2 separate regions of the Homo sapiens genome follow, and region 2 is linked to region 1. Evidence: fine-mapped expression QTL. A gene starts in region 1. The other region holds a variant in brackets. All regions are shown on one strand. Distances are between the middles of the regions.

Region 1 (5,381 bases):
AGCCGAGTTCAAGAGGATACCAAGCTCATGACTATATCTCTAAGTGCCTTCATTGGTCATCTAATAGCTGTATAAGGGATGTTCAATGCAAATGTTCAAAAAAAGTGTTTTTTAACACTTTCTGGAATGATCATGATTTCTCTTTAGTGAGCAATCTGTATCTGCCAACGGTGCTATCGACTGAATGTTTGTGCCCCCTAAAATTCGTATGTTGAAGCCTTAACCCCAATGTGATGGTATTTAAATGAGGCGCCTTTGAGAGGTAATTACGTCAAGAGGGTAGAGCCCTCAGGAATGAGATTAGTGTCCTTCTAAGACAGACAGTGCTTGCTTCCTCTCTCTGGGAAATGAGGATATAAAGAAAGGATGACCCTCTGCAAATCAGGAAGAGGACAGGACCTACACCAGACACTAGATCTGCCAGCATCTTGATCCTGGACTTCCCAGTCTCCAGAACTGTAAGAAACAGATGTCTGTCGTTTAAGCCACACAGCCTATGGTACTTCTGTTACAGAAGCCCAAGCTAACACACAGAAGATCAGCCCCACCCAATATTACCACCTCAGAGAGTCTTATGGGGAAATAAGACTTTGAGACAGTAGTTTAAGATATCAGTAATCAGAGTAAACATGAACTCATTTTCTGAACCAACAAACATAGTATCTCCATCTCTCTTAAGAGATTTATCTTGTATGTTCAGACCGCATATTTTTATTGGTTTACACGTTCTCAACAAAATTGTCACACATACCAAAAATAAAAAATAAATATCCAAAAAGTTGATATACCTTTTCATCTTCCCACTGAAAAAAATTACAGTCTTTTCTATCTCTACAGGCTGAACAGGCATAAAACCTCCGAGTTTCTTCTTTCCCTTGGGTCACCTTTACAAACAGAAGAGTGGGTCCTAGTTCCAGAATAGAAAAAAAAAAAAAAAGTGTCAAGTAATGGTCATCTACGTCAAGTTCTTAGTTTTCGCTGCCCTTAAATAAAATTTGTTTGAGCTTTAGGCACAATTTATCATAATTAAATCCATCTCTTTGGTTGGTTGTTTTTTGTTTTGTTAGGGTTTTTTGTTTTGTTTTCTTGAGACAGGGTCTCCCTCTGTCGCCCAGGCTGAAGCGCACTGGCACAATCATGGCTCACTGAGATCCTGCTTCCTAGCCTCAAGCGATTCTCCCGCCTCAGCATCCCGAGTAGCTGGGACTACAGTTGCGTGTCCCCAGCTGTTTTTCTTTTTTTGTAGACGGAGTGTCATCATTTTTGCCCGGGCTAGTCTCAAACTCCTGGGCTCAAGCGATCAGCCCGCCTCGGCCCCCCAAGTGCTGGAACTACAGGTGCACGCCACCACGCCGGCTTCTCTGTGTTTAATGAATGTTTCTTTTCTCTCTGTTACAACATTCCGGCAGTGACTACTTATAAATAATTTTTGAAAACCGGTCTCTTCAGAAAGAAAATGCTATTGTCGGTACAGTTGCTGTCTACGTTGTGAATATTACAAACCTGAGACTAAAACAAGGAAGGGACTCAGAGAATTGAGGACTTTGACATCTCTTGCGCGGTTACCCTTGCAGTGAAAACCTGAGCTTTGAGCTGGAAACGCCCACTTTCTGTAAGTTAGAGAAAAACTGAGTCTAGTTCGCAGGCAAGAATTACACTGTTTTTCTCCCTAATTTTTTATTTTTGAAGGGAGAGCAAATCAACAAATGAAATCCCCAAGTACTTGTCAACGAGAACTATTCAATACCATGCATTCTTCTCTTTGCCTACTTTTCTGCCCCTTCCCCCCAAAAGAGATGAAATAGTCCTGGAGCCAAAACCACAAGAGTGGAGACTTGCTCTGAATGTTTCTCAAGTAAGTTGAAAAACACCGCGTTCCGAGGAAGGAGTATTTTCTAGGCAGCACACTGGTGAGGGAAAGAGGCGGGTAAAAATACAGGAGCCCCAAAAGCCACTTCCAAGCCAACTCACACCCTCAGCGCCCGGCAGTTAGGCTGAGCCCAGACTCTGACCCACCGTGAGGGCACAGCGGGGCGGGGACGGCAGGATCCAAAGGAAGCACCACCTCCATTCCCGAGCTTCCCCGGCACCCTGCGCTGCCCTCTGCCTCCACGGCTTCAAACCCATTCCTGGAGGCCGCCATCTTCCCGCCGCCGTCCCGAAAGCCTCAGTACGAAACAAGAATGCTGAGAAAGAGCGCCCCCGCGACCCAAAGCGACCCACAGCGCCCCCAGGCGCTTAGGAGGAGCTTGGGCGGGGGCTGCCGCGGCGGAGGCCACGCCCCGAAACGCAGTCCCCGCCCACCTGGGGGCTGCACCTAAGCGGCCCCTAGCGGTGGGGCTCGCAGGTCACTTGCGGGACCTGTGCCATGAGCTCAGCGCATGAAGCACCCTCCTTTCTTAAGAATATAGCCAGGAAGTGAGATGATTCGAACAAAGACTTGGTTGTATTGTAGGTCCAAAAGGCAGCATTACCACCTCTGCCAAATAGCTGAAATGGCTGCAGCAGCTGTGATTTAAGGATCATTCTTTGTTTTTCAAAGTCACAGTCACTGCATCATCCTCTGTAACTTTTGGACAATGCTGAAAGTTGCACATCATAGTTGCATACTCATTGACATTTATACATAAGAAAGAAAGAAAACCGTCCTGATTTGCAGATGACATGATTGTCCACATTTTAAAAATCCGAAAGAATCTATCAGGAAAACACCTCCGGTTTAAACTGAGTTCAGCAAGGTTGCAGGATATGAGATAAACACACAAACATCAACTGGATTTCTAAATACTAGCAATGATCACAAGAACACTAAAAAATAGAATACCACTTACAATCACTCAAATAAATGAAATAGGTGTAAATCTAACGAAATATGTACAGAGCTTTATGTATGCTAAAAACTCCAAAATGCTTGATTAAAAAAAATCAAGGCTGAGTGCAGTGGCTCACACCTGTAATCCCAGCACTTTGGGGGGCCAAGGAGGGAGGATTGCTTGAATCCAGGAGTTCGAAACCAGCCCGGGCAACAAAGCGAGACGACATCTCTAAAATAAATAAGCAATTTTTAAAGTTTTTTAAAAATCAAAGAATAGCCGGGCACGGTGGCTCACGCCTATAATCCCAGAATTTTGGGAGGCCAAGGCAGGTGGATCACAAGGTCAGGAGATCGAGACCATCCTGGCTAACACCGTGAAACCCCGTCTCTACTAAAAATACTAAAAATACAAAAACAAAAAAATTAGCCAGGCGTGGTGGCGGGCACCTGTAGTCCCAGCTACTCGGGAGGCTGAGGCAGGAGAATGGCGTGAACCCGGAAGGCGGAGCTTGCAGTGAGCCGAGATTGTGCCACTGCACTCCAGCCTGGGTGACAGAGTGAGACTCCGTCTTAAAAAAAAAAAAAAAAAATCAAAGAATAAACAAATGCAGAAACATACTGCATTCATAAATCAGAAGACTCAACATAGTAAAGATATCAGTTCTCCCCAGGTTTAATGCTTATACAGGTGTAGCACAATTGCTATGAAAATCCCAGCCAGATTCTTTTTGTACATTTAGACAATATTCTGAAATTTATATGGAAAGGCAAGGGAACTAAAATAGCTAAAACAATTTTGGAAAAAGAATAATGAAGTGGGAGGAATCAGCCTACTCAATTTCAAGTCTTATAGTGCAGTAATCAAGACGCAGCCACATGTCTATGGTTGTAGACGAAATAGTCTCTTATGTTATTTAAAGAACCATTGGGGCATGTGCCTAGTTAACTTCACACATTGAGTGCTATGGTTTATTACTGTAAAAACATGGCTGTTTTTCTTTCACATTTCATGTAATGGTTTTACTCAAATTCTCCATCTGCACCAGTAGCATCTGTATCTTTGATGTACCAGTGTCCCCTTTTTCAAGTTGTCCAGAACACTTTTTCAGTGTATATTATCTGCACATGTCTGGTCTTTTGAGATAGGAAACTTTCTACAGCTATGATGATGATACTCTCGGACACTATCTCAAGACCTAACTAGCTGGGCACACATTCTCAGGACCCCTTGAGACAGTGCCCTAGGCAGAATAAAAACTAAAAGACCTAACTACCTACTCACATGAACTCTAGCACTTTTATTTACAAATTTGTTTTAGATGTACAAATTTGTGATCTTAAAAGACTTGTTTATAAAATTTGCAAGTGAATTTGTAACTCGTAAAACCAGAGTTACTGAGTCTGTATTTCCTCTTTCTCTTTTAAATAATGCTGATTCTGTGAGGCAACCTCTCTAAGCAGCCAAAACCAGTACAGATGTGCAGCCTTTACAGATAAGCTTCCCCAAACAGTAAAAACACAACAAAGATTGATCCAAATAAGGTAAATGGGAGGGCACTGCAAAATGTGAGAGCTGCTGAAGGTTTCAAACATCAGGCCATTTTGTTTGCAGAGGGATAATTTTGGGGAGAAAAAAAACTCACCTTATTTTCAGATATATATATGGTAAATAGCCTGTGTTAAATATTTACTGATGGGATTATGAATATGACCAATAAGTTATACATGTTTCATTTAATTTCCTGATAGTGTCTTTAGTCTGCACAGGAAAATGCTTGAGTAGAAACATACTGAGAGATTCAGCAAGGTTCTGAAAGGAAGCCAGAGACAGAACTGAAAATAGGTCCCTTGAGGCCTAAGCACCAGGAGAGACCTAGATTACACTTATTGTCAGGCCTCTGAGCCCAGGCTAAGCCATCATATCCCCTACGCCCTGCACGTATACATCCAGATCGCCTGAAGCAACTGAAGATCCACAAAAGTGAAAATAGCCTTAACTGATGACATTCCACCATTGTGATGTGTTTCTGCCCCACCCTAACTGATCAATGTACTTTGTAATCTCCCCCACCCTTAAGAAGGTTCTTTGTAATTCTCCCCACCCTTGAGAAGGTACTTTGTGAGATCCACCCCCTGCCCGCAACACAGTGCTCCTAACTCCACCTCCTATCCCAAAACGTATAAGAACTAATAATAATCCACCACCCTTGGCTGACTCTCTTTTCGGACTCAGCCCGCCTGCACCCAGGTGAAATAAACAGCCTTGTTGTTCACATAAAGCCTGTTTGGTGATCTCTTCACATGGATGCATGAGACACTTATCACACAGAGCGTGGTCCCAGGCTGCTAAGATTGCTGGAACTCAGCTACTCTCCCAGCCGATTGTCTGGTCAAACTGGTGAGCTTTCTTTCTTTCTTTTTTTTAATTTTTTTTGAAACAGAGTCTCACTCTGTCGCCTAGTCTGGAGTGCAGTGGAGCAGTATTGGCTCACTGCAACCGCCACCTCCCAGGTTCAGGCAGTTCTCCTGCCTCAGCCTCCCAAGTAGCTGGGATTACAGGCACATG
Region 2 (5,381 bases), 40 kb before region 1:
CAGCCCAGGAGTTCGAGACCAGCCTGGGCAACACAGAGAGATCCCATCACTATTTAAAAAAAAAATTTTAATGAAGTTAAAGTAACAAAAGAAAAAGAGGAAAGCAAAATGCTCAGAAAGGAATAATAGGTCCAGAGAAATTTTCAAAAAATAGAAAAATTGTCCAAGAACGTAATCAAATAATGTTTATAAATACATGAGGAGATACGGCACAGTTTCTCCAACATGAGCATGTAATGGACAGTACTGTTCTTCCCTTTAGCAGGAATTAGGAAAAACAAATTTGCTTTTAGACTTTGTTCTCATTTTTTTTCCCAAAGGTTGGCTTTCTCTTTATTGAGAAGACTGCTTTTTAGCCTGTCAGACACATATGACCTAATCAGAACCTTTCTTCATCAATACACTGAAGTGCATAATTATTGTCCACACTTGGACCTTGCAACTATTTCTCAAAACTGTAACCCTAATATTTCCAAAAGTTCTTTCCTAGTAACACAGACTGCCTAACAAGTGACAGCTGGTTACTCCAAAATTGCCTCTCTCATCTGCTGTATTCTGGATCTGTCTTCTTTTGTCCTCTCACCATTTCAAACTCTTGCCCATAGTGAAAAAAGAAAAACTCCTCTCTAAATATGGATGTAACAGTTTTCTAAGGGCACGAATTATTAGGTTGGTGCAAAAGTAATTGCGGTTTTTGCCATTAAAAGGAATGAATGAATTAAAATGAATGGCAAAAACTGTAATTACTTTTGCCCCAATTTATACAATTATGCAATTTTAATCTCTCAGATTTATCAAAAAAGGACCTGAGGGAGAGTTTTACCCCTACCTTGGGACTATCTGAATGATGACAATGACAGTGATGGTGATGACAATGCCGACAGCAAGAACCTAAACTTAATACTTGCTGTGTGTTAAGGACAGGGCTAAGCCTTTCCAGGTATTATTTCATAAAATCCTTAAAACCTTAAAAGACAGATATATTGCCACATTCATTTAACAGGTAAGATAAGCTTCAGAGGGGTTAAGTAAGTGCCAGCACCAGGATTAAAACTCAGATCCTTTTTGACTCCAGGGTTCATGCTATTTCACTCAGTTATCCATTTGACATATACATGGCACCTACTGTGTGCCAAACATTGCACTAGATGACCATCCATTGCCAAAGGCGGAAGATGCTGCTGAAAACTAGAACCCGTTTACGTAGTTAACTTCTTTAGAATATGTCAGCTATCTCCGTATTGCAAATGTCAATACTAGAAGCATCCCTCAGACAAGAAACAGAAAACTTGATGCCCCAAAAACGAGTTAAATGAGCTTTGAGAAGACTTATGATATAAATTTTGCTCAAAGCAGAGCTCAAGAAGTCAAGTATAAAATGGCTTGTGCTACACACTTTTAGAACAAAACCTGTTAATGCTACTTAATAGCCATAAAAAAGTCCATTATATTTGATAAAGTAATCTCAGTTTTGGAAATCTATTTTAAGCAAGTTATATAAAACATGAAAAAATTATATGCATAAAAGGTGTTTACAGCAGTGTTATTTATATTACCTTAAAAGGTAAAAACAACCTGTAGTCCAAAAAGAAGGGAATAGCCTGTAAATGAAATAATTTATTTATTAAAGCATAAAGATTGTGTAGCTATGTTTAAAAATGTATACTTATAAGACATAATGAAGAAAGCAGAATTCAAAATTGTCTTCTACGATTACAAACCTGTAAAAAGTACTCTTAAAAAAAGATTAAAAGTGAACACTTTGAAAGTACAGTGTCTGCTGTTTGGGTGGAATCACAAGTAGAGTCTTTTACTCTCATTTTTGGTAACACTGTTTCTTTCAGAATTTTAAAATAATTTTCATAATGGTATATGCCTTCAGGATTAGAAAGATTAGAACCAAGTGCTAGCTTGCAACAGCTAGTGAAGACATTTACAGCTAAAACTCTGCCTTAATCAGGGGCTAGTCGATTATTCAGAAAACTCAAATAGAAAACTCTTACAAAAAGAGGAAGCAGGCTGGGTGCAATGGCTCACGCCTGTAATCCAGCACTTTGAGAGGCTGAGGCAGGCAGATCACTTGAGGCCATGAGTTCAAGACCAGCCTGGCCAACATGGCAAAACCCTGTCTCTACTAAAAATACAGGGGAAAAAAATTAGGTGGCCATGGTGGCACATGTTTGTAGTCCCAGCTACTCAGGAGGCTAAGGCAGAAGAATCGCTTGAACCTGGGAAGCAGAGGTTGCAGTGAGCCGAGATTGTACCACTGCACTCCAGACTGGGTGACAGAGTGAGACTCTGTCTCAAAAAAAAAAAAGAAGCAGTACCTGCCTGAAGACCATAAACAGTGATGGCGACAACAGGGTTAACTTCAAACACAAGGGAAGAAAATACAGGAAAGTGGAGTTTAAAGCAGAATGAACTTAAAAGACCAGGTGGAGCTGCTGTGGACAGCAGCCTCATTCTCATTTCAGGCAGGGGGAAAATTCCATAGTCATTGCTGT[G/T]AAGTTACTCACTCCAGTAACTTCCTCCCGGAATCAACACATTCACACAGAGCCATCTCTGCCTTCTCTGACACTCCTGACATCCCAAGAGTGATGCAGTAAAGTGTGCATGGCATTTCACCAACCACAAAGGTGATTTACTTTTCTATATGCCCTGAAAAGAGGAAACCAACGTTCATAATGATGAACCAGGGGTGGGGGGGCTGCAAAATCTCCTAGTGATGATGAAAGACTAAATCAGCCGCTCTAAACCCTAGCACACTTGGAGTCACCCAAGGAGCTTGGTGAGATATTTTTTCTTGGGGCTTTGTCCTCTAATTCTGATTTAGTGGGTTTATTTTGGTACTCAATCTGTATTTTCAACATGCACTCTAGGGATTACTGATATTTAGAAAACACTGGACTGAGCTATATATGGTATAATATTAGTGTTTAATACAGCTCATTGTATTTTACTAAAATCAATGAATAGTCTTATATCTATTCAAGTAGAATCTCCATTCCCCAACCATGCCAGAAAACAGAATATGTACTCTACCTGGTAATCCAGCATCTGGAAGCTTGGAAAAAACTGACAAATTCGGGATTCAAAAAAATAGGGGAAAATCCAGAAAATGGGTAGTTCTTTGTGACTGTCATCTAATGGATCACAAAAAGGAAAAAATAATAGTAAATTAAAGAAAAAATAGAAGGCTACAGTAGAAAAACTTCCGCTAGCATAAGAAATTGCAATGATTCAACACATTTAAATCTCATACAAAAACAGAAAATATTTACCAGAGTGCCATTTCAAACCTGTCTATTCCCAAAGGTCAGTGGACATATTCCTTTATATCGAAATATAGCTACTAAGAGTATGTAAAAGTAACCCTTATATGTATATTACTATTGTCTAGGTAAGGCAAAGATGTTACCTAAAAAGTTGAAAATAGAAAAGGAGTGCCACTTTTGAGGCACAAAGGTAGTCATGATGCAGTGAAAGGACCTCTGGACTAGAAGGCAGTAGGTCTTCGGTGTGAATCCCAGCTCTGCCACAACTCATTATCTTAGTTTTCAGGGATGAATCAACCTTGTCTGCATCATGGAAGATTCTTCAAAACAGTTTTACCAAAATTAGTGTTTGTGAGAGACAGGGAACACAGCTATTACTTACAAAGCACCTAGTATAGGCTAGTATTCATTATAGCACTATTACAGCTAAAATTCCAATAGGCTGAAAAGCCTTAATCAGAGGCAAGCCTAATCATAGTGCTTACACTAAGCTATAATAAGTACATTCTATGTACTGTCTCCTTACAATAATCCCTAGAATTAGATGTTATCCCATTTTACAGATAGGGAAACTGAAGCCATAAGCTATCAAGTCCAATGCAGCTAATAAGTGGCAGAACAGGAATTCAAGCCCACAAAGCTCTTTATTGCTTCCCCAATGACATTGACTTTATCCACTCTAATTAGTGGACTTAAAAACAGCAAATAAGTGAAATACTTAACAATATGAGTCACGTTTTATATTTCATTTGCATTGTCCCTCAAAGCACTATTAGTGGAGAAGCATGATCACAAAATTCCTGACACTCTTAACAAATTTATCAACTTGCGAGCTAGAAAATGTTTCTAAAAAATGAATGTACCAACTAATTAGATAATTATATAAAATACTTTGAAGTCCTAAGTCACGCCTGTAATCCAGCACTTTGAGAGGCTGAGGCAGGCAGATCACTTGAGGCCATGAGTTCAAGACCAGCCTGGCCAACATGGCAAAACCCTGTCTCTACTAAAAATACAGGGGAAAAAAAATTAGGTGGGCATGGTGGCACATGTTTGTAGTCCCAGCTACTCAGGAGGCTAAGGCAGAAGAATCGCTTGAACCTGGGAAGCAGAGGTTGCAGTGAGCCGAGATTGTACCACTGCACTCCAGACTGGGTGACAGAGTGAGACTCTGTCTCAAAAAAAAAAAAAAAAAAAAAAAAGAAGCAGTACCTGCCTGAAGACCGTACACGGCTAAGTCACTTAAACTGAATAATAACCCCCAGCCACTAGCCTACCTATAGGGCTGGGAATCTGTGTCACTGATAACCACAATCAGCCTATGGGATGTCTAACCTCCAAACTCATATCCTGGCAAAGCGTAGAGCCCTGGACCTCAGGTTGAGTGCCCTCTTAGTGTTCTGGGCCAGGCTTTAGGAACAGGGAATGTATGATCCACAGGGCAGAGGTATGTGTCGGCTTTGTTCAAAAATCTATTCCTAGTACCTAAACAGTGCCTGGCACACAGTGGCCACTCGGTAAATATTTACTGAATAGAATGACAGCAGTTCACTGCTGTTCTGCATAATGTCCCATTATCCCCATCAAAAACATAGTATTTTACCTATAAGCCATTAAAAAAATCCACATGATTAGAATAATACAAAGTATATCATGATAATGAAGTTTGCTGCAACATCAAATAAGCCTGTTTTTAAAAAGAGAACTCAAGACATGTATATTCTATCACTGCTCTGATTCACTGAGCTCAGCTAATATTTGACAGGAAGTAGATATATAGATATGTATTTATTTTGCAGTAATAAATTATACACCTTGGCTTTGACCTTCTTTCCACATAGCAATTAACTTCTTGAATGTAATAGCCAGAGGTTCAACCAAGCCACCAAACGGAGGATCCGTCACCATAATGATTCCTTCGCCTTTATCTTCCTGTAAAAATGCTCTGCATACTTCAAGGGCAGTCTGGAACAAATAAAAATTCATTTCTAAATTAGGACTAGAGAGAGGCACTTCATCCTATTTGGAGGAGAATGCATTAGACTCAGTCTCTCTCTTAATACTGGAAACTTTACCAAGTCATCTTGCCACCGCAGCATTCCTCAG

The links. PIP is the estimated chance that this variant, and not a neighbour inherited with it, causes the effect.
Region 2: its variant is fine-mapped to the expression of ZCCHC4 in whole blood (TOPMed, PIP 0.95).

The regions. Positions count from the first base shown.
Region 1 is chr4:25,309,572-25,314,952 of GRCh38, reverse strand. ZCCHC4 (zinc finger CCHC-type containing 4) reads right to left here and starts at 2,179. Exons shown (of 13, transcript NM_024936.3): 1 at 2,017-2,179; 2 at 789-907. The coding sequence starts at 2,143. RefSeq lists enhancers at 2,061-2,120, 1,649-2,525, 4,113-4,252, 4,873-4,932 and silencers at 2,119-2,323, 2,331-2,400.
Region 2 is chr4:25,349,351-25,354,731 of GRCh38, reverse strand. It overlaps ZCCHC4 (zinc finger CCHC-type containing 4), which reads right to left. Exons shown (of 13, transcript NM_024936.3): 7 at 5,090-5,240; 8 at 3,043-3,143. Among named protein-coding and RNA genes, the nearest start is that of ANAPC4, 25 kb to the left of the region's middle. The variant G/T (reference allele first, on the strand shown) is at 2,505.